Homo sapiens: one gene and its partners. The protein of the gene in region 2 interacts with the protein of the main gene of each other region in a biochemical or structural test. Each region holds a gene or a part of one and is shown on either strand. Other genes may lie near its edges. The genes, in order: FRMPD2, SLC26A3, ERBIN, LIN7A, PDLIM1, MAGI3 and DLG3.

Evidence for each region.
Region 1: the proteins of SLC26A3 (region 2) and FRMPD2 interact in a test that uses a peptide from one of them, tested with the Homo sapiens proteins (one large-scale study listed by IntAct).
Region 3: the proteins of SLC26A3 (region 2) and ERBIN interact in a test that uses a peptide from one of them, tested with the Homo sapiens proteins (one large-scale study listed by IntAct).
Region 4: the proteins of SLC26A3 (region 2) and LIN7A interact in a test that uses a peptide from one of them, tested with the Homo sapiens proteins (one large-scale study listed by IntAct).
Region 5: the proteins of SLC26A3 (region 2) and PDLIM1 interact in a test that uses a peptide from one of them, tested with the Homo sapiens proteins (one large-scale study listed by IntAct).
Region 6: the proteins of SLC26A3 (region 2) and MAGI3 interact in a test that uses a peptide from one of them, tested with the Homo sapiens proteins (one large-scale study listed by IntAct).
Region 7: the proteins of SLC26A3 (region 2) and DLG3 interact in a test that uses a peptide from one of them, tested with the Homo sapiens proteins (one large-scale study listed by IntAct).

The regions. Positions count from the first base shown.
Region 1 is NC_000010.11:48,183,953-48,188,062, reverse strand, and holds part of FRMPD2 (FERM and PDZ domain-containing protein 2), read left to right. Parts: intron 1-770; coding exon 771-871; intron 872-2,417; coding exon 2,418-2,510; intron 2,511-3,181; coding exon 3,182-3,289; intron 3,290-3,380; coding exon 3,381-3,497; intron 3,498-4,110.
Region 2 is NC_000007.14:107,796,292-107,800,401, reverse strand, and holds part of SLC26A3 (chloride anion exchanger), read left to right. Parts: intron 1-4,110. UniProt on the Homo sapiens protein: Mediates chloride-bicarbonate exchange with a chloride bicarbonate stoichiometry of 2:1 in the intestinal epithelia. Plays a role in the chloride and bicarbonate homeostasis during sperm epididymal maturation and capacitation.
Region 3 is NC_000005.10:65,932,889-65,936,998, reverse strand, and holds part of ERBIN (erbin), read right to left. Parts: intron 1-4,110. UniProt on the Homo sapiens protein: Acts as an adapter for the receptor ERBB2, in epithelia. By binding the unphosphorylated 'Tyr-1248' of receptor ERBB2, it may contribute to stabilize this unphosphorylated state.
Region 4 is NC_000012.12:80,847,186-80,851,295, reverse strand, and holds part of LIN7A (protein lin-7 homolog A), read left to right. Parts: intron 1-2,973; coding exon 2,974-3,045; intron 3,046-3,120; exon of another isoform or gene 3,121-3,197; intron 3,198-4,110. UniProt on the Homo sapiens protein: Plays a role in establishing and maintaining the asymmetric distribution of channels and receptors at the plasma membrane of polarized cells.
Region 5 is NC_000010.11:95,238,670-95,242,779, reverse strand, and holds part of PDLIM1 (PDZ and LIM domain protein 1), read left to right. Parts: intron 1-4,094; coding exon 4,095-4,110. UniProt on the Homo sapiens protein: Cytoskeletal protein that may act as an adapter that brings other proteins (like kinases) to the cytoskeleton. Involved in assembly, disassembly and directioning of stress fibers in fibroblasts.
Region 6 is NC_000001.11:113,396,751-113,400,860, reverse strand, and holds part of MAGI3 (membrane-associated guanylate kinase, WW and PDZ domain-containing protein 3), read right to left. Parts: intron 1-4,110.
Region 7 is NC_000023.11:70,489,457-70,493,566, forward strand, and holds part of DLG3 (disks large homolog 3), read left to right. Parts: intron 1-2,650; coding exon 2,651-2,827; intron 2,828-3,064; coding exon 3,065-3,140; intron 3,141-3,919; coding exon of another isoform or gene 3,920-4,019; intron 4,020-4,110. UniProt on the Homo sapiens protein: Required for learning most likely through its role in synaptic plasticity following NMDA receptor signaling.

The DNA of each region.
Region 1 (4,110 bases), on a different chromosome or scaffold from region 2:
CAGCTTTACATCAATTGTTCCCTCTCAATCTAGACTTTGCTCACCTCTGAATGTAGCTTATCTCTGTGCAGAACTGACCCCGGGGCTGTGGCAACATCTCCCTTGACTCATTATTCTGCTAGGCTCTAGTACATTATTTACTAGCATGAGGCATATTCCGTCAGGGCCAGTTGAATGCCTGCATGAATGCTTCTTGTTCACAGCATGGTATGATCAGGCGGCACCCAACACAACATGTACAATGATCAAGCAGGTCAGTGACCCTGTGCAGCTCTCGAGCATGTGGTAGGTGGGGTGTGGAGGGTGCCTGGCCTGCCTGAAGGCCTCCAGCTGAAAACAGGAGCAAATGACAAAACATCAGTATCCACTAAGAGTGCTGGTGTTTGACACTTACTATCTCATTTCAGTTCCCTTAGAAGCCTGGGAAGTAGGAATGTTATTCTTATTTTATGGTTGAAAAAATGGAGGTTTACAGGATCACGTATCTTGCACATAGTAGGAGGCTCATATGAAGCCAGAGTTACCTCAGTGTCCCCTCTGAGACATAAAGATCCTACAGCCATTTTTCCCAGTGTCCTCCTAATAACTAGATCAGCCCTCGATGGGGTCCCTCTGAGGAGCTGCTGGATGACTGGACACAAGGCTGCCCTCCCCGGGCCATCATCCATACTCAGAAATGCCAAGAAGTTGCCTCCCTGAGCCACCTTATCTAACCTCACTGTCCTTCCCCGTGGGCCACCTTATCTAACCTCATTTTCTTTTCCCGGCAGCCCCTGCACTGGCCGGGAGCAGCTGAAGAGTGCCTGTGTGATCCAGAAGCCAATGACCTGGGACTCTCTCTCTGGACCACCTGTTCAGAGCATGCATGCAGGTATGGGCCAGGCCACGACCAGGTCTTGGGTGGAGGAACCCCTACGCAGGAAGCTTGCTTTGAGTCTTTTACCACCACTTATTTTTGCTTCCCACACAATGTTTGTAACCTTCTTGTTTTTTGAATTGTTTTCTTTTTAAACTACTTGTGATTGGGAAGAGGCGTTTAGCTTTGGCTGGGTATGAGGATCTGAAATGTGTCAGCTCTGGCGAAGACAATCCCAGCACTCTTGTCCAGAAGGAAGAATACCTGCTATGGAGGGTGTGTTCAGAAAAAGGCACCATTCACTGTAGATATGCTTCTTTATGCAGGCCAGAACATCACCTCCCAGTATTCACCAGAAAACATACACAGAGTAGATGGCAGTCCCTTCAGCCATGCATCCTCCTGGCCAGTTCCCTGTTGAATGTGAGGACAAAGAGATCCGACACTTGGAAAAATATCTCTACTCAGTGAGCATTAAGCCTGAGGGTTGGATCAGTGTATTAGTGCGTTTTCACGCTGCTGATAAAGACATACCCAAGACTGGGAAGAAAAAGAGGTTTAATTGGACTTACAGTTCCACATGGCTGGGGAGGCCTCAGAATCACGGTGGGAGGTGAAAGGCACTTCTTACATGATGGCAGCAAGAGAAAAATGAGGAAGAAACAAAAGCGGAAACCCCGGATAAACCCATCAGATCTCGTGAGACTTATTCACTATCACGAGAATAGCATGGGAAAGACCAGCCCCCGTGATTCAGTTACTTCCCCCTGGGTCCCTCCCACAGCATGCAGGAATTCTGGGAGATACAATTCAAGTTGAGATTTGGGTGGGGACACAGCCAAACCATATCAATCAGGAAAACTGCCAGGCAACTCTTTACAAGTAACTTGTCTGCCAATTTCTGCCAAGGTCCCTGGGGGAGGGAGAGACATGGAAGGACTGAAGTGGTGGGTCACCATTTGGGGATTTTCCCAAGTACACTGTGGCACACACTGAAGTGCCCCACTCCAGGACTCCAGCTCTCCAGGAACAGCTTCAGGGCTCTGCCTGGGGCTCCTCCATGATCCAAGCCAGGGGAAGACCACAGGTCACACAGGCTGGGCTGCTGGCACCTTGTCACCCCTGGTTATTTGAGGCCTGGGATGGGAAGGCTTTACTGTCTCACCTCTGTTTTAGCTTTTGTTTTTGTTTTGACTCTCAGCAATTATTAATACATCTCTGCTCATCCTCTGTCTTGTCCCAAAACCAATGCGGAAAAAAATAGCTACAGTAAGTCATACAGAAAACAAGCACCATAGCCCATCCTGTTCTTGCCTCTGCTCTTTAAGCTGGAACTTGAGCAACACTGAGTGACACTCCAGAGAGGCTCATGTGAGTGTGTGTTCAGGTGTCCATTCCCAGCACTGCTGGGAGATTAAATATGAGCTACTTTTGTTTTCAGGATTGTGTGCGTGTGAATGTGTGTGCGCGCATGTGTGTGAAATGCTGTTTACTCCTTTTGTATTAGCTCCCAAATAATTTGGGGGAAAAGCACAATGTGGTGCTCTGATTCTACCTCTAGGCTCAAAGAATAATAGGAGGAAGAGCTTTATAGCTGAACCGGGCCGAGAAATTGTACGTGTGACACTGAAACGTGACCCACATCGTGGTTTTGGTAAGAGGGCTCCCTGTAGGTGAGGCCCAGTCTCTACTGCTGGGCAAAGTGGGGAGGTGGGTACTGTTTTCCCTTTCAACTTGCCTACTCCCCTTTCCTATCCCTCCTCTCCCAGTCTGCCTTTTCTGGTAATCACTTCTGTTTTTTTTCTCCCTTTAATTGTTCCTAAAGAGCAATGGGACTTTTGTTTCCAAGTTTTTCTTTTTGGGGTGCATCTAAGTACAATGCAGAAAAAGATTTTTTCCCCTAATACCATGTAACAACATTCCTCTAGTCAGCTATGGGGAAGAAGAGTCAATTTATCTCACCTCTTACTAGTGACCACTTTCTAAGACCCGAAAAACTGTAGAAGAAACAAGGTACGGAGACAAGGTACTTGATTAAAAATCATTTCTTTCCTATGTCTCATTATCTACTGGAGCAAAATCCAGTGCATATTGGTGGTTTGTATTCCTAGCTTTAGCTGTGCTTACTAATGGGGAACAATCCACCTTTCTCCAAGTATCATGGTAAAGTAGAAAAGATCCTCTATTTGAGGATCAGAAGACCTGACTGTAACTATCAGCTAATGCCACTTGGTAGCTGTGTGATATGAGGGAAATAACCTAACCTCTCTGAACAGCAAAATCACTAAGTATCATCTTATCATGGACTATCATCTTGGATTACAGGGTTTGTCATTAATGAGGGAGAGTATTCAGGCCAAGCTGACCCTGGCATTTTTATATCTTCTATTATACCTGGAGGACCAGCAGAAAAAGCAAAAACGATCAAACCAGGTACATCTTTTTAAATTACTAGAGATGCTGTTTTAAGAAACCACTCTTTTTTATTTCCTTGAAGGATTATTGAGATGTTTTATTTTTCTAGGAGGGCAGATACTAGCCCTGAATCACATCAGTCTGGAGGGCTTCACATTCAACATGGCTGTTAGGATGATCCAGAATTCCCCTGACAACATAGAATTAATTATTTCTCAGTCAAAAGGTATGTTTTAACCCACTCTTGGGAGCTTAAGAGGCTCCCCTGTTTTCAGGAGTACATGATTACTGTGAGGTACTAGACCTTGAAGTCCACGTAGGTCTTCTATATTGCTTTCCTCATGGTGTTGGCTTGCAAAGAAGCAGTGTAGTGGCACAAATTAATAAGCTTTGCAATTTCAGGGGCAGAATGGGCGTTACCATGCTTGTCTTGCTGAAAGGGAGTAACCTACTCTAATTTTGTTAGACACGGCTGGATACAACCAGTCTTTTTTTTTCTGTCAACTCTCCTTGCATGGCAGGGAGGACCTTTTTATTGCCACCCAAAGTCCTTGTTGATAGGGTCGGCTCCAGGATTTCTATATTTTGTATAGAATCCTATACAAAATTTCTATATTTTGTATAGGTATAGCAATCAGCTGGGGAGGAGACAAGCACTGTTCTTTGTTAATCTTTTGTTTTGGGTTTAGGGCTACATGTGTAGGTTTGTTATTACAGGCAAACTCGTGTCACAGGGGTTGCTATACAGACCATTTCATCACCTAGGTGCTCAGCATAGTGCCCAATAGTTATTTTTCCTGATCCTCTCTCTCCTCCCATCCTCCTCCCTCAAGTAGGCT
Region 2 (4,110 bases):
ACATGTTTGTTGAAGGAATGAAGAAATGAATCAATGGTCAGCTGAGTTGTGTTTTGTTTGTTTGTTTGTTTTAGAGACAGGGTTTCTTTATATTGGCCAGGCTGGTCTTGAACTCCTGGCCTCAAGCAATCTCCCCACTTCAGTCTCCCAACGTGCCAAAATTACAGGCATGAGCCACTGCACCCAGCTGTGCTGAGTATTTTTAAGAATGAATTGGAATCTACCAGGTATTGGAGAAGAAGAACACAAAGGAAATCATGTGTACAGAGATACGGAACTGTTAAATATCATAGCGTGTTAGGAACCTGCTGCAATTGTGAAGGAGGAGTGAAGAAGCTTGTGAGATAGACCAGAGCCAAAACATGAAGGACCTTGTATGTCATTCTAGGAAGCTCGGATAGCTAGATTATTTTAAAACTATGTTAAAACAAACTGGGATAAAAATGGAAAACTGCTACTTCTAAAGATAAGCTCAGAGTAAACATAAAGTCATAGAAAAGTTGGCAGCACTAACATTTTCCAACAGGTTCCAGCTGACTTTTGTGGACCAGTTGTAAATTCCACCAACAGTCAATATTTAACTCACTTCTGAGACTGCTACCTATGAACTTAAGGCTAAGAAGTCTCCCTTTGTATACCCTGCTTTCAGTTTTAAGAACAGCCCTAGAAGGAAAATAATGGTCTCCTCCTTTTGCTTTAAGGAAATTGAAGCCTTGGGCCGGGTGCTCACGCCTGTAATCCCAGCATTTTGGGAGGCCAAGGCAGGCAGACCACTTGAGGCCAGGAGTTCGAGACCAGCCTGGCCAACATGGCGAAACTCCATCTCTACTAAAAATATAAAAACTTAGCTGGGCATGGTAACGGGTGCCTGTAGTCCCAGCTACTCGGGAGGCTGAAGCAAGAGAATCACTTGAACCCAGAAGGTGGAGTTTGCAGTGAAATGAAATCGCGCCACTGCACTCCAGCCTCCACCCTGGGCGACAGAGCAAGACTCTGTCTCAAAAAAAGAAAAGAAAAGAAAAGAAAATTGATGGCTTGAATCACTGGCTTATAGCAAACATAGTTAAGATATGGCAAGGCAAGGATTTGAAACCTGGTGTGCTTAGTTGCCAAAGTCTCACTCTTTTCTGTTGTACCTCCCGATTAATTTAGGTTTGACTTCCTTCTTCAGCATCTTCGGCAATGTAGTAATAGAATTGATGAAAAATAGTAGTAACAATTATTGCCCACCTCAGCCTTTGACCCCTTCTGAGCTCTCTTAATCAACCTCAGTGCTGAGACCCCTCCCCTCCATTCACCACTCCAGCCCTCTCCCATTCTGATGCCATCATCTCCCTGCTTCTATCCAGCCTCACGCTAACCAGAATGTGGAGCTTTTTGTGAGCTTGATTTCTGATTCCTCTGGCTGCCGATGGAGATCCCTCTGAAGGTGCTCACTGGAGCAATTATTCTGCTTGTTCCCCCATCTCTCACCCACTCCCCCAAGTATAGTTATCAGGACGCTGCTGTATTTCCCATTGTCCAAGGACTAATTCATGAAATAGGGCTGGCTTACCTCTGGTTTTGCACTGACTGGCTCAGAGATATTTTGAGATCCATGAGGTGAGTTGTGTTTTCAGCAGATTTCAGGCACAGTGTGGCATTTTCAGTGATGTCTCTATCGAAGGCCTTCCTCAGCTTGAACAGCTATGAAGGGGTGATGCTGCTAGGAGCTGCCTTGTCCAAGAGTGGAGGCATCTAATGTGACTGCGGAGGGGCTGGGAAGTGTTCTGCACCCTTGCTTGTCTGCTGGTTTCAAATGACCGCTAATTAAAGACAAATCCTAGCACCGCTCATCAGCATCTTGGTTCAAATTAGTTGTTTCCCAGCAAAAAGGGCAGACCTCTGAAAGACTAAAACACAGAATAGATAAACACTGAGTGGAAAGGTCAGGGCCAAAAGACACTTCTCAGCAGAGCGGGGCAGGCAGAGTGGAGGTTCTCGTAACTGGAGGCCAGTCTGCAGGTTGGAAATGGGTGGAACTTGAAGTGGTGGGGAGGTATGTACATGACAATCCCTAGAAATATCAAAAAGTTATTAATACATGGGAATAGTTAAACTGAGAAACTGAACTTCAGAAATTAATCCCAGGATTAAATTTCTGCTCAAAAAGAAAAAAAAAAAGCAGAGAACAACAACGTGTATGACTAAGCCACAGCACCAAGATATGTAGGTATATGAATGTCTTCATGTGTGTGTCTATGTATGTAATATATATATCATAAAGGCCAAAAAAATAATAAAAAGCACGTCGTAGGGAAGCAAATAAAAGTGGAAATATATACAAACAAGGCTTGGGATTCTATAATTAGTAAGAGGAAGGGACTCTGTGAATGAATTTCAATCCCCAAATCCACTGACACCCTAAGGAACTCAGAGATCCATGAAGATAGAACATGAAAAGGCTTTTACATTAATATGGGCGTAATATTTGAAATTGGAATTGTGATTCCAGGAACCAGAAAAAAGTGTTTTCCAAGAATTTCTGGCAAAAATGTAACTTGTTCAGGTGAAAAAAGAGTTTAAACAATCTCTTTTTAATTCCTAATTAAAGATGAGCCGAGATCTCGCCACTACACTCCAGCCTGGGCGACAGAGCAAGACTCCGTCTCAAAAAAAAAAGGTCCTGCTCAAGAATCTCAGAAATGATGACATGGAGAATGTCATTAATTTATGACTATCTGGAACATCTCTTCAGCAGAGGCACCATTGGGGTAGTTGATTCAGAGGCCCACATTGTATGTTACACATGGAGGCATAGCTTTTGGAAGCGGGGATGGGTGCAAGGGGAAAACAGAAAGGCTGGAATGTGGCCCTCAAGATTTCTCTCTAAAGTCTGGAAAGATTTCTTTTCTTTTCTTTATTTTTTGAGACGGAGTCTCGCTCTGTCACCCAGGCTGGAGTGCAGGGGCATGATCTCAGCTCACTGCAACCTCTGCCTCCCGGGTTCAAGCAATTCTCCTGTCTCAGCCTCCCGAGTAACTCAGATTACAGGTGCCCGCCACCACGCCTGGCTAATTTTTGTATTTTTAGTAGAGACAAGTTTTCACTGTGTTGGCCAGGTTGGTCTTGAACCCCTGACCTCAAGTGATCCTCCTGCTTCAGCCTCCCAAAGTGCTGGGATTACAGGCGTAAGCCACCGCGCCTGGCCGGAAAGATTTCTTAAGCTCCCCTGATTCCTACCCTGAGCAGGGCCCTTGCAGGCAGTGCTTGGGTATGAGGAGGAGGCTTTTACTGGCAGGACAGCCAGAGTTCAGGCTCTTGATCCAGCTGGAGGTATAAGAAAGCCCACTAAAGAGACAGCCATAGCCATCCTCAGAGAAGGAAACTGATTAGAAATGAAGTTATATTTCTCCCATCACTGTCATCGGCAAAAAAAATTAAAATAAAAAAAATACAACAGCCAGAAGAATAAAAGTACCTTCAAGATCTTTTTTGGGGAAGACAACTAATAAATTTCTGTGAACTCCTTGAGGAAAGCATGAGTAAAGCAAGCAAAGAGCAGAATCTTTTTTTTTTTTCCTGGCCATAGCAGCATCTGACAGAAGTACAAATGCACAGTGCTGAAGTCTTCTTCATCCTAAGGTTGGCTAGGTTGGTTCCTTCAAAGGATTAAAGCTGTTCTTATAAGATATTCCAGATACCCTTTGTGAGAAATCCAAGATGTCAGAAGTGATTGACCATGGATTAGATCTTAATTATTATTGCCCCAACCATGTTGTTGGTAATCAGCCAAAAAAAGACAAAAATCCATGCTCTGCACAGCAATGCACAAGTCACCTCCACTTTGTGAGCAAGTTCTTCTGACAATGGGAAGTACTGTCTAGTTAGTGGGATTTGACCCCTGAAGTGTGGGTGGAGAGATGGAAGAGGGAATGGAAACAAAAGAGAAAACAAGCACTTGGGAGTGGCAGGGGAGGAGAGGCCCAGAAAGAATAGCAAAGGAGGATCTAAATGTCATAACCGAGGCCCTGGTGGTGCACCTATCAGCAACTTGGGAGGCTGAGGTTGAAGGATTGCTTAAGCCTAGGAGTTTGAGGCCAGCCTGGGCAACATATGAAAGATCCCTGC
Region 3 (4,110 bases), on a different chromosome or scaffold from region 2:
ATATTGCCTCTCTCAGATGTCCACAAGTATTATAAGACAACCAATACCCATTTTGGTCAAAAATGCATACAGGTAATTTTATATACCATTGATGGAAGTACAAATTGATACACACTCTTCAGAGGGAATTTGATTCTAGCTAGCTATCAATTTTAACTACACATACCGGAGTATATCTGGGAGATGGAATTGTGGAGAATTTTCATCTTCTATGTTCTATATTTCTATGTTTGAATTTTTACAGCAAGATTATTTTTATAATTGGGGAAAAAACAGATTAAGGTAATTGTTTTTACCCTCTGCCTATCAAAAGCCCTTCACCTTATCCAGCCTTCCTATCCTACCCTAAAGTGTCTCACTCTGTAGACATTTGTAAGACAGAATCGACAGAAATTTCAATTACTAAGGTCAGGAAAATAAAGATGACTCCTAGGGTCCCTGGCTTGGGAATGGCTTTTAAAAGAGCAGACAGGACCCTCTGTTGATACCAGGTATCCACGACAAATCAAAAAGCATCTACTATATACAGTCCCTGCTATTTTGCAGTCAGCATCAAGACAATAAACTAAATCTTCTGAAGTCCCCAGGGATTAATAGGGCACCCAAAGGATCCATTTGATGCTGCCAAGATCCTTATCTTTTCCTAGAAGACTGAGAGATTTATTCTAGTCTCAAAGGATATGCCTCTTAAATCACTTCCAAAATCTATAAGGAAGAGGAAAGTCAAACCAACTTATTCTAGGTTGTGTGATAACCTTGGCAACAAGATTCATTTTTAGATCACTAGTTTCTTGCACTGGTCCTACTACAAACATACCCTCCTCTCCCCACCCCCCCTCCATCAGACCTCCCTCCATGCTCCCACAAAGAGTCTAGAGTGACCTAAGGTGTGAAATTCCAAGAACACCATTATTAGGTGCTTCAAGACTTCAGGATCATGCAAACAATATAACCTGAATATATGAAAACCACAGCTGGGTGCAGTGGCTCACACCTGTAATCCCAGTACTTTGGGAGGTTCGAGGTGGAAGGATCACTCAAGCCCAGGAGCTGGAGACCAATCCTGGCAACATAGTAAGACCTCTACCTCTATAAAAAATAGAAAAATTAGCTGGGCGTGGTGGCATATGCCTGTAGTCTCAGCTACTCAGGATGCTGAGGTGAAAGGATTGATTGAGGCCATGAGTTCAAAGCTGCAGTGAGCAGTGATCATGCCACTGCACTACAGCCTGGGCGACAGAGCGAGACCCTTCTCCAAAAAAGAATAAAAAAGAAAAACACAACTGCATCAAAATCACTGCACTCATACTGAAATTGAGCAATTATCTCCACAAATAACTTGTCCAATGTAAAGAGTAAAAGTACTGGATTTCTTCCATCCTCCTTTCACAGTCGCCTCAAGAATTACTAAGGAATGAAATATTTCACATAAATGTACTTTATCACGGAATTAAAACTTGCCTTTTTACAGTTTGGAATTTTATCTCTTTAGAAATACTTCAGAAATTAATTGGACTGCAGACACTTCTGGCTCAAAAATGTTTGAACAAATGTTTACCTTAACTTCCTCACACACATAACATATGGAAACAAAACTATTTCTCACTGTTAGAGATAAGTTACAAGTATGGAAAGGGGAAAAAAAACAACTTAGAGTGAACCTGGTGGTGCTGGATTAGAATTGCATTATAGAAATATGCAGATGCTCCTCGATTTACAATGGGTTTACATCTGGATAAACCCATCATTTAAGCCAAAAATATCACAGGTTGAAAATGCACTTAGTACCCCAATAAAACCCCTGGTAAAGTCAAAGAAGTATAAATCAGGGACCATTGTATATATTTATAGATATATAAATAAAAATAGATGTAAATATGTGTAAGTACATAAAAATATTTCCTAGCTTTGTATATGAAGAGGGCCTGAGAGTAACAATACCCTAAAAACAACAATGTACACAAGCCCCAGATCTTGGCTTCTAAGTATCATTTTCCACTAAAAACAACCAGGAAAAGTAGAAGATATGTTAGAACATCTAATTGTGCTAAAAAACAAGGAGTACTCAAAAAAGGAAGAGGTATCAAAAACAAAAAAGAAAATAAGCCAGGGGGTTCTCACTGGCCAATCAAGAACAATTTGAGCACCAAAATAAATAGTAATGCATTATGTCCTTGCGAAGATAAACCTAGGTACATGTAAATAAGTGAATTTAAAATATGACAAACAAAACAAAATATTTACATAGTTTCAAAGCACCTACCGCAAAATATTAGTTAATTACAAACAGGGAATGAATACCTTAAAAAGGGCAAGTCTGGCAGCCACAACTTTAATCACATAAAGTGAATACCATAATAGGACACACTGAAATTGCCTGCCACCTGATAAGACGTAATAAGAAGAATGCAGCATCACTTTTACAATAACCCTGCCAAAGATCTAATCATAAAAATCTAATCAAAGATCTAATCATGAAAAATATCACACAAATGAAAATTGAGGGGTATTCTACAGAATAACTAGGCCTGTCATCTTCAGATCTTCAAAAGTGTCAAGGCCTTGAAAAAAAAGAGAAAGAAATTATTCCAGATTGAAGGAGAATAAAGAGATGACAACAAAATGTAACACATGATTCCAAACTGGAATAGTTTGCTGTAAAACACATTATTGGGATAATTGAGGTTCAGATGTTAGTAATATATTCATGTTTACTTTCTGATTTTGATGGTAATGATGTCATTATATGCAGGAGAATATCCTTGTTTGTAGGAAATAAACATTAAAATATTTAGGGGTGACGGGCTGGGCGCGGTGGCTCACGCCTGTAGTCCCAGCACTTTGGGAGGCCAAGGCAGGCAAATCATGACATCAGGAGATCAAGACCACCCTGGCTAACACGGTGAAACCCCATCTCTACTAAAAATACAAAAAATTAGCCAGGCGTGGTGGCGGGCGTCTATAGTCTCAGCTACTTGGGAGGCTGAGGCAGGAGAACTGGCGTGAATCCAGGAGGTGGAGCTTGCAGTGAGCCAAGATCACGCCACTGCACTCCAGCCTGGGCGACAGAGCTCTCAAATAAAAAAAAATATATATTTAGGGATGACGACAGGGCATCATGTTAGCAACTTAGTCAAATGGTTCAGGAAAAAAAATGTTCAAACTTTTCCATATGTCAGTCATTGTTTCAAAAATTAAAATTTAATTTAAAAATATCTATAGCAGTGCTGAAAACCTGGGAGGGGTATACCTACAGATAAGAACAGAACGGAATTTATAAAGAATACAAAGTAGGCTGGGGTCGGGGAAATAACAAAATGCAATACACTTGAGGAACCAGACACCCAAAACAAGAAGAAAGTGGGATCTCCAAAAAAGATGAGTTTTCTTAGCAAGAAGGATTAAGAGAAGCATATCCTGAGCGGTCAGCCAGAGAGCAAAACCATAGTAAAACACTGTGTAGCTAAAGCCTCTAGTACAGCTCTATGTATGTAGGAGATGTGACACTTGGACAGTGTGATTATGAAAAAAGGAGACTGCCTCCTGAGGAACAGTAAGCACCTGTACCAAAAGGTCAAGCTACCCACATACCTTCAAAGAGAAACTCGTTAAATATTTCTCCCTTTCCTCTTCTAAGCAATCACCAAAGCCAGAAGAAGGATTCATTGGGCTGGGAACATATATTTAAATGACCAATACAGTAGAGACTAGGTCATCATATAAAACTTTGACTACCATGAAAATCTAGTATTTGAAGAAAAAACAAAAAGCATGACATACACCAAAAGCACAGTAAGATCAAATTTTCTGTAGTGTTAGTAGAATAAACAAAAGACAATGTTAAAAGAACATCTCAGAGATTAAAGGTTACATGCAGACCAAAAATAGGGCTAGAAAACCAAAATTGGGCCAGGTGCAGCGGCTCATGCCATAATCCCAGCACTTTGGGAGACCAAGGAGGGAGGACTGCTTGAGGCCAGGAGTTCAAGACCAGCCTGAACAACAGAGCAAGAACCCATCTCTACAAAAAAAAATAAAACATTAGCCGGGCATGGTGGTGCATGCCTATAGTCTCGGCTGAAGGTGAGGTGACAGGATAGCTTGAGCCCA
Region 4 (4,110 bases), on a different chromosome or scaffold from region 2:
ATTAAAATGATATTTCACTGTGGACTAATGAATTTATTGGTTTCAAAATTGTTGTATTGTATATTTGCAGCCCTCACTTGTTTAATGGTAGCCACTGTATAAAACCTAGATTCCTTTATTCAAAATATAAAGAAATTCTCATAACACCTGCAAGTTTTTGTTCACACTGATACTGCCAAAATAGTAATGATCTGATGCTGTTTTAATATAAGAAAGTCTGATACGGTTGAAAGAGGAAAGATTTTGAAGGGAGATAGAGATGAGTTGCTGTATCAAATCTGCAACAAATTAGCTGTGTGGTCATCGGTATGTTCCCACCTCTGTGACTCAGTGTCTTTGTGTGTAGAGTGCCCAAATAAGAAGTTAGGAGAATTAACCGAGCTCATGGATATAAAATGGTTAGCATTACATTTGGCCCATGGTGATTTCTCATTAAATATATACCAGAATTATGGTAATTTACTCCAACAAATATTTATTGAATGTTTTACAAGAGCCTTTACTCAGTGCTATCCAAGTCTGTTTTTACAGCTTACCAATCATTGCACGTACGAAGAAAAGGTATAGCTTAATTCCTTAGATCAGGATTTCTCAATCTCAGCCCTATTGACATTTTGGCAGATAATTCTTTGTTCTGTGAGGCTTCACTGTGCATTGTAGGAATTTAGCAGCATCCTTGGCCACCACATGCTAGATGCAGTAGCATCCCATTTATGACAACCAAAAATGCCTCCAGACATTGCCAAATGTCTCCTGAAGGGCAACATTGTCCCCAGTTGAGAACTACAGCCCTTGATCAATTCTATGTAAACAGTGTTCACGAACTGCTCATCTTAGGAGATTTTCCCCAAAAGATCCATGGTCAAATAAGATGAGAAACATCAAATGCCAGCAACAGCATAACAATGATAGCTAACTTTTGGAAACATACTAAACATGGCAAATTGTTCTTATCTTATTTAATCCTCATAACAGACCTAGAAGTTACTTACTATTTTAAGGCACATTTTTAAAATGAGGAAATTGAGGATCAGAGAAATCAAGTGACTGACAAACATCATACAATTAAATGGTACAGCTACGGTTTGCTTCCAAGCCATCTTCAGAGTCTGTGAAATTATCTACTACACAGTATTGCTCCTTGAATATACCACTTTCTAATTCAAAATCAATTTGGGGTCTTAAGGCTAATTATTCTTAATTTGTGATATTTATTAGGTACAGGTATTTATCTCCAGCACTTACAAAATCACCTTTTGTTTTATTCAATTGATGACAATATTCCAATTATTTGCTAAATGATTGTCTTCATAAACATCCTTGGATGCAGGCAAAGTCACTTTCCCTGGCAATGTTAACCAAAATAACTTCAAACAAATTCAGATGACCAGGAACTGTGGAGAGACTCACTCTGCTTGAGGGAGGCAGAAAACATTTAATAGAGGAGACAATATTTGAATTTGACCTTTTATCATCATATTAAATTTGGATGAATAAGAGTCTGCCAGGTGGAAGGGCATTCCTAGCAGAGTAAACGGCATGTGCAGAGACCTAGGTAACTTGGAGAGTTCAATATGTTTGAGGAATGGTGGGGGTGGAGAAAAGAAAACAGGAAAATAAAACTAGAGAGAAGGCTGAGTTCTGCATTATTATCTGTGGCTTGACTCCTGTAGGTATTTGCCCTTATCACCTTTGCAGTAAGGGCAGCAGACAGCCAAGAGCACAGCAGGGACATGGTCAGGTAGGTACTTGATGATCACCAAAGTGTATATGGTTTGATGGCAGGGAGACCCAATTAAGTCACTAATGCAATGCTTGCAGCAAGAGATAATGAGCTAGGGTGGAATGAAGGGTCAGATTTGAGAGAGTTTATTACAAGAGAAGCAGGGCAGGGAAAATCCTCCTCTGAAATGGGCTATTAGAGCAAATAGTATAATTTATTTTTGGAAAGGCTGTCTCTATGAAACAAAATAATGCATTTCCAAGGAAATAATCTGGAAGTACGTTTAGCAGCTGTTCAGGTAACCTGGAGAATTTGCAGTAACATATCTCAGATTCCATAAATGATCTTCTGGAAACTTGTTCCTGTCTCCATTCAGATTTCCCATAGAAATTGAACACCTCATAATTGTTAAGTGGAGATTCAGAGCTAAAAGTTAGATTCTGAATTGCACTGTTGCCTTTTTAGTACAGACTACTTTGTCAATTTCCTTCTAACCATGTCACCTGGGAAAGATGAGTCAGCGTTAGTGGAGATTCAACCAAATGTATTTGAGAAATTATGAGCCAGTCAAAAATGCAGGGAAGAGATTAGTCCCAGACACTCAACAAATAGTTGTTGAATGGGTGAATTAATCAAATGTTGGATTCACTTATTTAATTTTTGAGTTAAGCATGTAAAATAAGATTAATATAAAGGAAGAAAAAAACCTTTCAACCTTCGATTGCAGTTTTTCCCTTTCCTTTTTTACTGAAATAGCTAATGGATCACTCCCCAAAAATACTCTAGCCTAGTACCAAATGGACTTTTATTGCTATGCATTATGCAATAAATTTTTACGTATACTATTTAAATCCAAAATGAACATATAGTCCAACACATTTAACCTTGTTACTTTTTTCCAAACATCTTCCTCAAGGCATCCTTTAAGTTTTTTTTTTTCTGTACTTTAGTTTAAGCAATTTATTTTACCATAGATACAAAGATTTTATAATCCCATCCCTGGAAGTTTATAAGAAACAATTTTTTTCTACTACATTTTAATGATTTCTGTAATTGTATCTAAAATCACAATGAGTAATAATATCTGCTGTTTAAGGAGTGCTATCAGGTACATTCCCAAACATCAGACCTATGTTATTTTGCAATAGAGAATTTTTTTCCTACAGTGAAAATATAATTTTCTTTCTGCAATAAAAGAATTATTATTCTTCATGTTCTTACACATTCTTCTTTTTATGTGAACATTTTAGGTGTATCAATATATGCATGAAACGATAACTGTTAATGGCTGTCCCGAATTCCGTGCGAGGGCAACAGCAAAGGTAAGGCTTGAGTAACTTTAAAAATATACTTGACCCCAGTTATCTAGTAATTGATTGTGCGCGTGTGTGTTTCAGGTATTCTCGTGTGTACACTGTAAGAGAATTTAGACATCAGTGGCAGCCCAGAGTCTAGAACCAGTACTACTTCTCAGGTAAAAATCCTAATGGAAAATTGAACGTTTCTGCTGCTTCTGTAGCTTAAGAAAGGAGAATGATTTCATTAAACTCACTTAATGTCCATTTGGCACAAGCAAATCTACTGGTTCATTGTGTGAAATACTATATGATTTTCAGACACATTCTTCTGATCTGAAAGAACCTGTATCATATTCAGTGCATGAAGATTTATTTGCACCGGTCTAAAGATTTGATTTCAAATAGACAGGAAAAGAATTCACCTGACACCCACTGATCTAGGATACTTCTGTGTATTCAGCTGAGCAGTGGGTAACTTGCTGAAAGGATGTGGCATAGACCTTATAGAAAACGCCTGTCACCTTTTGTGGTAGTGACCACATCTGCCCTTTAAAGACTCAAATCCAGAGACTGTAGAGACCCTACTAATGGAAATGTTATACCGATAACATCAGGAAATTATCAGGAAAATAGGCCATTAGGAAATACCAATTTTAAACTAAAATCACTGATGCAGCTCTTCTTTTACAAACACACAAATGTTATAATAGAAACATGACTTGCTTTTAAAAATACTTTATTTTTCTAATAATGTATAAGAAATAACCATTGAAAATGAGTAGAATTTTCCATTTAATTATTTTGTGTTACATCAACGCTTGTTTAGTTTCTCTCTTGATTTTTTAGTTTTTACTCTGTAACTGAACACTGTAGATTTGTAAGGTTTTTTTGTTTTGTTTTGTTTTGTTTAAACTCAGGGAAAAAAAGAGGGTGTTATTATCATCATGTCATGCTTTGCTTGTACTGAAGTGGAACACACACAGAAAAATGATCCCTACGTGGTTTAATTAAGGGGAAAGTGAATTGTGTAGTGTTTTACCATTCTCATTTCTTATTCATGTAGAACAGCAGGATAGCAGCATAATGTTG
Region 5 (4,110 bases), on a different chromosome or scaffold from region 2:
GATGCCCACCCAGGCCCTTCTGAGATCCCTCTAGGAAGGGCCAGGATCAGGGTGAGGTGAGGGAGGCACTGCTTTGAGGGCAGAATTTTTTTTTTTTTTTTGAGACCTCTGTCGCCTAGGTTTGGAGTGCAGTGGCGTGATCTCGTCTCACTGCAACCTCCGCCTCCCGGGTTCAAGCCATTCTCCTGCCTCAGCCTCCCAAGTAGCTGGGACTACAGGCACGTCCCACAATGCCCGGCTAGTTTCTGTATTGTTAGTAGAGATGGGGTTTCACCATGTTGGCCAGGCTGGTCTCGAACTCCTGACCTCAAGTGATCTGCCCGCCTTGGTCTTCCAAAGTGCTGGGGATTACAGGCATGAGCCACTGCGCCCGGCCTTGAGTGCAGAATTTAAGGGGGCACTGGAAAACTCAATAATCATGAAAAAAAATGACATTTAAATGCAATATTAAAAAAATTAATACAGGTAAAATATATGGTGAACAAAGTTGGAACTTTGGCCTCCTCCCAAAGGAAGGGAGGAAGGCTTGGGAAGGGCAAGAAGTTGCCCTAGGCTCGGGGAGAACAGAAGCACCAAGGTGGTTTCTCCTTATGCACCTGCTGGTGGGGCAGAACTGAGTCTTCCCCAAGCCCATCTGTAGAGCTCACCACTTAAAACCATGGAGCCTCCTAATCTCAGCCCCATCTCATGTGCTGCCAGGTGGACATCTGTGTGCATCGGTTCCCAGCGATGAATAGTCCCAGCTCTGAGGGGGGAAGCCTAAGTCTGAGCCATGGCAGCATGATAGGGCTATTGAGAGTTCAGGCTGCATTCACATATACCCTCTTGTTGTTCCCCATAAGCCAGCCAAGTACCCCAAACCATCTCTCATATTGTATTATTCAGCAGTGGGTAATCTGTATTTATGAGGGCTACCGGATAGCTGTGGCTCTGCTGGGCTTGGCAGGGCTGGACCAGGCCCCGAGTCCTCTCATTCAAGCCCAGGGAAGGGAGAGGCACTCTGGTGCTTGCTGTTTTCATGGCAGAGGCAATACCTCTGTGGGAACAGGGCCAAACCACACAAGTGCCCTTAGTGCTTTTGCCTGTATAAGGCTCACATCTGCTCACGTTGGCTAAAGTCAGGATGGGGAAGTCTACTCCATCGAGAGCAGGGTTTCTCAGCCTTGGTGCTATTGACATTTTGGGCCATATGAGTCCTTGTTGTGGGGCTGCCCTGTGTATTTTGGGATGTTCAGCAGCATCCCTGACCTCTGCCCACTAGACGCCAGTGGCATCCCCTTTCACTGTGACAATCGAAACTGCTCTCTAGGAGACAAAACTGCCCCCAGTAGGGAACCACTGACTGGAGGTAAGCATGGCAAGAGAGGGGCGGGGTAATTGTGGTCAAAATACAGTCAACCATGTATTCTAAATGCCCCTTGTTGCCAGGCACAGTGGCTACTGGAGAAGCTCTGGTGGGAGGATCGCTGGAGGGCAGGACTTTGAGACACAACATAGCGAGATGCTATCTCTAATCAGTAAAAATAAACAATTAATAAATGTCCATTGTGTGAACATGTGTCTCAATTTTTGGTTCGGAAGGATTGGTCAGCATACAGGGACTCACTTTCTGAAAGAACAAGAGAGCTAAGGCCCTTGTCTGTCAGCCCCGCGATTGCCCGACGTGACTGCAGTCATGGGGTGACCCTCTCTTCATCCCCTCACCTGGCACAGGAAGCTGTTTCTTTGCTCTTGTCCAGTGGTTCTTGGATCAGTGGCGCCTGGGAACTTGTTGGAAATGCAGTCTTAGGCCCCATCCTGGGCCTTCTGGCTCAGAAACTCTGGGGGTGGGGCCCAGCAATCTGTGTGTTAACAAGGCCTCCAGGTGATTTTTACCATTATTAATAGCTACCATGGTACAGGGCTTTGTTACCTAAGATGTGATGAGTGGGGCCTTAGGCAGCTCAGCATCTAGCTACTAGGGGCTTATTTTACACGCACCAGGCTGACTACAGAAAGGCTCCTTCCTCTGCTCTGTAGGAGATGATTGTTATCTGCCTGCTGTAGCATGCTGTATTCTGATGGTTTTGTTCTATCTGTGATGTGGATTTCTTTTCTAAGAACTTTATTTATTTTTAAATTTCCAACATTTAAGTTCAGGGGTACATGTGTAGGATGCACAGGTTTGTTACATAGGTAATGACGTGCCATGGTGGTTTGCTGCACAGATCATCCCATCACCTAGATATTAAGCCCAGCATCCATCAGCCATTCTTCCAGATGTTCTCCTTCCCCCACTCCCCACCATCTGACAGGCCCTAGTGTGTCTTGTCCCTCCACCATGTGTCCATCTGTTCTCATCATTCAGCTCCCACTTACAAGTGAGAATATGTGGTATTTGGTTTTGTGTTCCTGCATTAGTTTGCTGAGGGTAATGGCTTCCAGTTCCATCCATGTCCCTGCAAAGGACAAGATCTCGTTCCTTTTTATGGCTGCATAGTATTCCCTGGTGTATACGTACCACATTTTCTTTATCCAGTCTATCATTGATGGGAATTTAGGTTGATTCCATGTCTTTGCTATCATGAATAGTGAGTGCTGTGATGAACGTAAGAGTGCATGTATTTTCATGATAGAATGATTTATATTCCTTTGGGTATACATCCAGTAATGGGATTGCTGGGCTGAATGGTATTTGTGCTTCTAGGTCTTTGAGGACTCACCACACTGTCTTCCACAATGTTTGAACTAATTTACATCCCAACAGTGTGAAAGCGTTCTTTTTTCTCCACAACCTTGCCAGCATCTGTTGTTTTTTTACTTTTTAATAATAGCCATTCAGACTGGCGTGAGTCGGTATCTCATTGTGGTTTTGATTTGTATTTCTCTAATGATCAGTGATGTCGAGCTTTTTTTCATGTTTGTTGGCCGCATGTATGTCTTTTGAAAACTGTCTGTTCATGTTCTTTGCCCACTTTTTAATGGGGTTATTTTTTTCTTTTATTGAGATGGAGTCTCGCTCTGTTGCCCAGGCTGGAGTGCAGTGGCACAATCTCAGCCCATTGCAACCTCCGCCTCCTGGGTTCAAGTGATTCTCTTGCCTCAGCCTCCTGAGTAGCTGGAACTATAGGTGCATGCCACCACACCTGGCTAATTTTTGTAATTTTAGTAGAGAGGGGGTTTGGCTATGTTGGCCAGGCTATTCTCAAATTCCTGACCTCAGGTGATCCACCCACCTCGGCCTCCCAAAGTGTTGGGATTACAGAAGTGAGCTACTGTGCCCGGCTTATTTTTTTCTTGTAAATTTGTTTTAAGTTCCTTGCAGATGCTGGATATTAGACCTTTGTCAGATGGATAGATTGCAAAAATTTTCTCGCATTCTGTGGGTTGTCTCTTCATTTTGATGATAGTTTCTTTTGCTGTGCAGAAGCTCTTTAGTTTAATTAGATCCCATTTGTCAATTTTTGCTTTTGTTACAATTGCTTTTCGGGTTTTCATCATGAAATCTTTGCCCATGCCCATGTCCTGAATGGTATTGCCTAGATTTTCTTGTAGTGTTTTTATAGTTTTGGGCTTTACATTTAAGTCTTTAATCCATCTTGAGCTGATTTTTATATATGGTGTAAAGAAGGGATCCAGTTTCAATTTTCTGCATATGGCTAGCCAGGTCTCCCAGCACCATTTATTAAATAGGGAATCCTTTCTTCATTGCTTGTTTTTGTCAGGTTTGTCAAAGATCAGATGGTTGTGGGTGTGTGGTCTCGTTTCTGGGTTCTCTGTTCTCTGTTCTTCTACCAGTACCATGTCGTTTTGATTACTGTAGCCTTGTAATATAGTTTGAATTTGGGTGGCATGATGCTTCCAGCTTTATTGTTTTTGCTTAGGATTGTCTTGGCTTTTTGGGCTTTTCTTTGGCCAGGTGTTAATCTCCTATTTTATAGAAAAATAAACTGGGGACCAGAGAGGCTAAGTTACTTGCCCAGGATCACAGAGCAGAGTCACTCCAGTTCCCATGGCCTTGCTTGAACATATATTTATAAGTGGTTCTGAAGAGCTGAGTGATACTTATGCAATTCTGCCCTTCCTGGCCAATGACAGTGTTTTCCTCATTTCAGGGGATCCCAACAAGCC
Region 6 (4,110 bases), on a different chromosome or scaffold from region 2:
TACATTGTGAGATTGCTCTAGTTAGCAAATCTAATTCTATTCAAAGGAAATTAAAATTTTCACTAGCATGTGCATTCTAACTTAAACACTGAAATTAGTGAATAGAATTCTTAGCTAAAATTAATAATATTTTGACAAAGTGTTCTGCTGAAAGCTACCAAGTTGGATTGAGATACAATTCTGTGAACAGAGGTAATAAAGACTATATCATTTTACTAGATTTCATGGCTTAATTAATCAATATATGGAATTAATATTGGAGAACTCTAATTATTACAGGCTTTTGAAGTAGAAGCAGTAATTTTCCAAATATGGTCTAAAGTCATCCGAAGGGTGCCCAAACTAATCTAACAATACAAAGTACTTGCTATGATGATTCTTACTGGCAAATCACACCCAATTCCATGAATGTTCATTTTTATGTACAGTAAGTGCATTCACCAATAATCTACCAACATTTAATATTCACTAAAGATCCAACTACCAGATGACACTTGGCAAAACTACAAAACTCCTACTGTGCATGGCATATATAAACTCAAAGTTATTACTAAAATTATTATTTTTATGGCACCAAAGCTGAAGACATTGATACAGTAATAGAATATAAAAATAGTATGAAATGTTATTTGGAGCACCCACCCCTCTCTTTCAACTGTCTACCCCTGCTCTGAGTACCTCTGTTCTCCCAGTGGAGGCTATAAAAAACTTTAAAAAGGGGATCAGATTTTATCCTGCAATATCTGCCAAATAACATTTTTGGTAATTAAACAGTTACCACATGACACCATACTTAAGTAATGTTTCAAAACTCTTATATACCCATTTTATATAAGAGTCAGTGAAGTAGTTCCTTTCACATAATTTCCACGAAATCATGGTTAAAAAGTATTATTAGGGAGCCCTCAGAAATACTACAATAATGACATTGTCTCAATTTGTGTTTAAAAAGACCATTGTTTTAAAAGCAAAACACCTTGGAAAGTAATTCGTTTAGAATTTCATTTTCAAAATGGTAGAATAAAATTGTTTTAAAAACGTAATTGTTTAACTAGGCTAATAATATTTTTCTCAATGCCAAAGACTGTTAATCTTCCAAAGTATTCCATCTCCCTAAAAATCAACAGCATTGATTTTAGAGAATCTTATTTAATTTTTTTAAAGAAAATTAAATAAAAATTACAAGAAATACTTTTAAATTGTGCACATTAAGGTATCAGTATTTCAATTTTTTAAAGAAATAACTTTTAAATAAAAGCAATTTTTTATTTAAATATTTGAGTAAAAGCAGTGCCTAGAAATCAAATCAGTTTTGGTTTACAGCCAATATCTGTTTTTCTAAAAATGATAGTTTTATGACAACTGTGTACTACTTCTGGCCTCCAAGTAAGAGAGATTAAATGTTTTAAAAGAGATCATTTCCTGTAGTATTGATTCCTCGGCATCCCACCCTTTCAGGAACTCCCCCTCCCTTACGTCTTGGGGTTCTGCTACAGTTATTAATCATATTATGCTATTTATACCCAGCTGCAAGGGTAGACATGTCCCCACGCCTGACCAATCATGGCACTTCATTGTCCTCTCCTCTCTCTACAATAATTGGTCCAAGAGATGGGCACAGGGCCAAAGTCCCTGCATGAGATTTGTTATTAGACTCCAAAAAGATGAGAAGCTTTAAGGACCCTGTATGACTTCGGGGTTCAGAGCTACCTTCACCGCTACACTGACAGTCTAGCTGAGAAAAAATCCAACCCAGAAGAAAAGAGAACCAAATAATAATTCTAATGACCAACACTTGAGAACAGAAGTTAGCTGTTACTGATCTATGCCTGGATTTTAATGTATGTAAGTCAATAAATTTCTTCTTAGCCTACATTAATCTCAACAGCGTTTCTGTCACTTGCTACAGAATTCTTACAAATACAGAAACTGATATGTAAATTAAGATTTTTTTCTTTCCTGCTGAGATCTAAGCTATATATCACAAGATACTTGCTGCAAACTAGATAACCATATCCAAAGAGTAATATATCTCTGGAACTACTCCATTAAAGTGAATTTTTAAAAGTTATTTTATTGGAGGAAAAAGCAAAGCCAATTTAGCTTAATTCTATTTAAGTTCAGAAAATGAAGCATTAATAAATACTTGTTTTTTTCCTACCTTGTAGGATATTTTCCTTTCATAAAACTACTTCTGTTAAATGCCATTATGTATAGTAAAATCCCATTTTTCATAGTCATGTGTAATTCCCAATCAGAACAACGAGATACAGGCTTGCCTCTCACAAACTCCCCTGAAGCCAGAAAATAATAATTACGTGTTTCAAATTATGTGCAAAAAAACCAGCAAAAGCAAAGAGGCTAAAATGCCAGAAAGTTTTAATTAAGTAGATCGGTTACCGTTCACATTGTATACCCAAGACAATAAAAAGGGAAGCCTCCAAATAGAAAAGATCTTAATTATTAATAAATTTGAAACAAAATTTTTTCCAATTACCACTGCATGATATTTTTTAAAACCAAACCCTAAACTCCAAACAAATTATGGCAAAAAAGTTTAACCCTTCATAACCCATACAGAGTCTCTAAAACAATATCTCTCAGTATGTGTTAATAAAACAAGTACCTAATCACCTATAAGGACAGCGTGTCCTTTCTCAGGTATTTAGATATGTCATAAGTCAAATTATGGTCCTCAAAATGTAATCTATGTTCCCCTGGCCATGTTGGGATGACTGAAATGGGTGGGGGCTGCAGGTAAGTGGGTTGCTCCTGGAAACCACTGCAATGCAGCTGAGTGGCTGCATCAGGATAAATTGCTAGGGTTCAGGGAAGAATGGAGATATAATGATGCCACCCTTCTCACTGGAAGCCAGTCGGCTGTGGCTGTAACAAAAGGGAAGGCGGGATTAAGATGAAAATATATTTTTCAATTCCCTTTTTCCTAGGCTAGCAAATTGTGTTTTCCCATAAAACTGGCTAGACTTCCAAAACAACAAAAATAGGGCTATTAACCATAAAGAACAGAACTAATGGTACATTAAGGGTTAAATAAAAATATTCATAGTATAACATTATGAGTGGAATGAGGCTGAAGGCAGAAATAGCATTAAGCACCTTAGAGCATTATTTCGAGGAGATAACACATTTAAAAAAAACTTACAGGAGACTATTCATAATGGAACTACCTATACATTTAAACAATTAATATGATCTTCCCTCTATTTTCCAATTATTCTATAATGTGGATTTTGTGCCCTTGTACAAAATAATTTCCAATTATTCTATAATGTGGATTTTGTGCCCTTGTACACAAACACACACAAAATTATTGAGATGGACCACACTGTAAACCTTTCTGTATGGAACGTTTTTGCCCTGTGTTTTTCTCCTCCTCTGCTTCTTACCTACTACTGGAAAGATCCTAATTCCACTCAACCAAAATCTGTCATCTTTCAAAACCCAAACAAGTTCAAAATTATTCACAATTCATTCCTCAACCACTCAAGTCAGAAAACAAGGGCAGATGGCGTGGATCCTACCAAGATATTAAAAAGAAAAAAAGAAAAGAAATCATTCTTTCACTTCATGTACACATTTAATTTCCATAAATTCACTGTACATACCTAGATGAGGATAATTTCTTAGAATTAAAAGTTTTTTTGTAAAACATATCTTTTTAATGCAAGCAAATTACTTCTTCTGGTATTCGACCAAAAAACTGCAATTGGTTCCAACATGGGTGGAAAAGTGGCATTTGGACTCATCCTACAAACAGTACAATATAGTATTTTATGCACAATTTAAGGGCTTTTTGAAAAGACAGTTTTGCTTATATTTGATTTCCCTCTTTTTGTGATGACTTGAGAACCCAAATCCTTTCTAAAATGCAGCTCCACTACTTTTTCGAATAGCACACTATGCAGCCAGTTAGTCTCATTTTCACCAAAATTCATACTAAGACCTACCTAAAGAGTTTTAAACACTGGCAGAAAAGTGAAAAAGGCAAAACCCTTACTACAGGTATTCCTTACCAATGAGTCATTAAGCTCCCACTAAACTGCCAGCTTCTTGAAGACACACAATTTCTGACTCATGTTTATATCGCCA
Region 7 (4,110 bases), on a different chromosome or scaffold from region 2:
CCCGCCCAGATAATTTTTATATTTTTAGTAGAGACGGGGTTTTGCTATGTTGGCCAGGCAGGTCTCGAACTCCTGACCTCAAATGATCTGCCCGCCTCGGCCTCCCAAAGTGCTGGGATTACAGGCGTGAGCCACCCCACCCAGCCGGAAGTAAACTGTTACATCAATTTTAGTTGAAGCTCAGATATTTAAAAAATTACAAACAGTTGGATTCCCGGCATCTAGAAAACATGTTTACGTCAACTCTACTTTATACACTTCAGCTTGTTACTGCTGTTGCCAAAGGTCAAGCATGGTTCTGGGAAGTGCTAAAATGTATCTTGTGTTTTAAACTTACAACCAGTAAACTCCGCCCTCTAATCTTCTACAAATTCATCCTAACTCCCCTAATTCATTTTATTTTATTTATTTATTATTTATTTTTTAGACAGAGTCTCGCTCTGTCACCCAGGCTGGAGTGCAGTGGCGCAATCTCGGCTCACTGCAACCTCTGCCTCCCAGGTTGAAGCAATTCTCCTGCCTCAGCCTCCCGAGTAGCTGAAATTACAGGTGCCCGCTACCATGCCCGGCCAATTTTTGTATTTTTAGCAGAGACGGGGTTTTGCCATGTTGGCCAGGCTGGTCTCGAACTCCTGACCTCAAGTGATCTGCCTGCCTCAGCCTCCCAAATTGTTAGGATTACAGACGTGAGCCACCGCGCCCGGCCTCCTAAATTCATTTTAACATCTTCCTTCCTTCTCTCACCAAACTAATTTGTGCTTAATTCAAGTTCTGTTCTTTTCCTTACTATATTTGTTCTAATCTTTGAAACCCATAATGACATCCAGTGTTTCTCATTGTCACTGAGAATGAGGTTGCTTCATGATGCTCTTCTTAGTAGGAGTGGCTGACAGAATGTCTTCCTTGCTTTAGGAAATGCAGGACTCAGGCAGTGAGAATGCATTCAGTTTTGATTCTGTCACACATAGCCCGGAATGCACCTCTCGGACAGCACCTCCTTGTCTGCTGCCTCTGCCATTCTCCTTACTGCTTTGAGTGTGTAAATTGAGGGGAAAAAAGGGCTTTTTGTTAGAGTTTGGGTATTTTCATTTTCAAATCATCTGACGCTGATTTTTAAGAACTCTGTTTCAAGAGCTGTAAGCAGTAGGTGAGTATTTCACTCTTCATGGTTTTACTACATCCTATCTCATTTGGGCTTGCATATGGTAAGATAGTGTGTTTTACTTGCAGCTTCCAACTGAGCCAAAGGCCACAGTATTGCAGGTAGAAGTCAAAGTCTTGGAACTAGATTTTGGGCTGTGTGTGCAAAGGTGTGAAAACACCTTATTAACAGAGAATATGAAGAAGACAGCCTAGATTGCAGGTAGAAAAATACAAACTTCTCACTGAAATCACCCATTTGTGGTGACTCCATATGAAGACAGGTTCCACTGGATGTGAAAAGTAGAAACTTTTTTTTTGGCTTTTTTTTTTTGAGACAGAGTCTTGCTCTGTCGCTTAGGCTGGGGTGCAGTGTCGTAATCTTGGCTCACTGTAACCTCCACCTCTCAAGTTCAAGTGATTCTCCTGCCTCAGCCTCCCGAGTAGCTGGGACTGCAGGCATGCAACATCACACCCAGCTAATTTTTGTAGTTTTAGTAGAGATGGGGTTTCACCATATTGGCCAGGCTGCTCTTGAACTCCTGACCTCAGGTGATCCACCCGCCTCAGCCTCCCAAAGTGCTGGGATTACAGGCGTGAGCCTCTGCGCCCGACCTCCTAAGGCTCTTTTGATGTGTCACTCCTCTCAGATTTCCAGGGGCCACTAGATCTTGTCTATTCAAGGGCTTCCAAAATTTGCTTCAGACCTTTATTTCCAATACCATTTCCTAGGACTTCTAGCATCAGCCAAGCTGGTGTCCTTTTCCATAAGCCTGGATTGTATAGCTCCCTCCCCACCTTCTCCCACCTTCCCTTTTATTTCTTTACTCTGCATCATTTATAGCATGTCACAACAGCATGTCTTGTCAGAAGACCTGGGTTTTGTCCCAGGTTGGTTAGATGTATGACCTAGGTCAAACTATTTTTTCCTCCCTGAACCTCTGTTTCCCCATATGTAAGAGAAAGAGACCGCACTAGGTGACTTCTATGGTCCCATTGGTCTTTTCAACCCTACCATTCTGTGCTTTTTCTTTGGCTGCCCGAGGACATAGGGCCCTTTCTTTAGTGCTTCAGGAGTGTTTACCAGTCATTGTTTGGGATTGTAGTTAACATTTTTTGTCCTCTCTTTAGCTACTTTTTGAAGATATGTTTGTGAACTGAGAAAGCGCCCTGCTAGAGCTAGTTTCCTAGGATGTGGGTGAGGGAGAGGGCTATTGAGCGAGTTCTACTTTGGACTTTTATCTTGCATCCAGAAGCCAAGAGGAGATGGGGTTTGTAAAATATTTTCTCTTATGCTTCTTATTGGGAGAATGAGATGTTTCTTTGAAAGCGGGTGCATATTTACCACTTTGGCTCAGAAAGAAGGATGTGGTCTCCTGGAGACATCCTTCTAGTATACTGTGAGGCTGCTATGTCTGTGCTGTTTGGGTTGGCCTTCCATCTTTTCAAGGTGCCAGTGTCTTGGCATTTAGGGTTGGATGATCACTTCATCTTTCACTGTGCCTTTCAGGGCCCTGTTTGATTATGATCGGACTCGGGACAGCTGCCTGCCAAGCCAGGGGCTCAGCTTCTCTTATGGTGACATTCTGCATGTCATTAATGCCTCTGATGATGAGTGGTGGCAGGCAAGGCTGGTGACCCCACACGGAGAAAGTGAGCAGATCGGTGTGATCCCCAGTAAGAAGAGGTGAGTCGTCATGATCATGAGCAAGGCCTTTCCTGCCCTCTTGCTGGTATTTCTTTCTTGTTTTCCTATTAGAAGTTGCTTGAGAGCAACGTTTGTGCCTTGATTCCTTTTTGGTAGAGTCGGTACTCAACATGGTTTTTACTCAGTGAGCCAAAAAAATGGCTGCTGTGCCTGCTGCAACCCACTGCTGAGACCATTTACTGGCAGTAACAGGACTTCTTTCTGATTCCAAAACAGGGTGGAAAAGAAAGAAAGAGCTCGATTGAAAACTGTGAAGTTCCATGCCAGGACGGGGATGATTGAGTCTAACAGGGTAAGTGGGGATCCCCAAGGAAATCAGCCAGTAGGTAAAGAGGGTTGAGAAGCCTGGAGTTTAGTCTGATGTGTAGGAGAACTGGGGAACACAAAAGAAAATCTCTTTTTCAGGGGGCTGGCTCTGTCCTATCAGAACATTGACTGCTTTTCAGAAAGCAGAGAGGGAGCTCTTAAAGTTCACAGCCAGTCTGTGCTCCTTTCCCCTGGGTACCGGCTCTTGAAGATGTGTTAGAGTTGGACTGTCTGGAAGGCTGACTTGCTTGGGGAAAATGAAACCACTCGTGGGTGTCTCCCTGGCTATAGATCCTGTCAGAGCATCCGGCCAAGAAGCCCAGCTCCAGAGCTCCCACCTCCCTTCAGACCACCTGAGGCAGGCGGGTTCTCCATTCACCCCTTTTTTTCTATGAGCTTCACAGGCCAAAGAACTTCTGGAGCAGTAGAGGGAAGAGAGACGTGGAGTAGATGTGTATATCAGTGGTACCTTAGGGCATGTGTCCAGGAGGCTACAGTGACCTTTGTTCTTTAGGAAGTACCAGTGAGTGTTATGAGTGTCTGGATTATGTAGAAACTTCTAACATCCCTACAACATTTTCTTGTAAACATAATTTTCCTCTTACATCAACTTTCATTTAATCTCATAGACTCCATTTGTGAGAGATGGTCTTTTATTTAGCTCACCGTTGTCTCCATTTTAGTTTTTCTTGCATGCTTTAAAATCCATTGTTCTGTTTTTTTTTTTCTTCTGTCCTTCCCCTCCATCTTCATGTTCTTTCACAGTCGATCAAAACGAAACGTAAAAAGAGTTTCCGCCTCTCTCGAAAGTTTCCATTTTACAAGAGCAAAGAAAACATGGCCCAGGAGAGCAGCATACAGGAACGTAAGTAGCAGCAGAGTCCAGAGAGCAGGCCATCTGCAGCCCCATCCTCTCATCCTCAGTTGCCCTTCCCTCGAGAGAAGCCTGGGCAGGG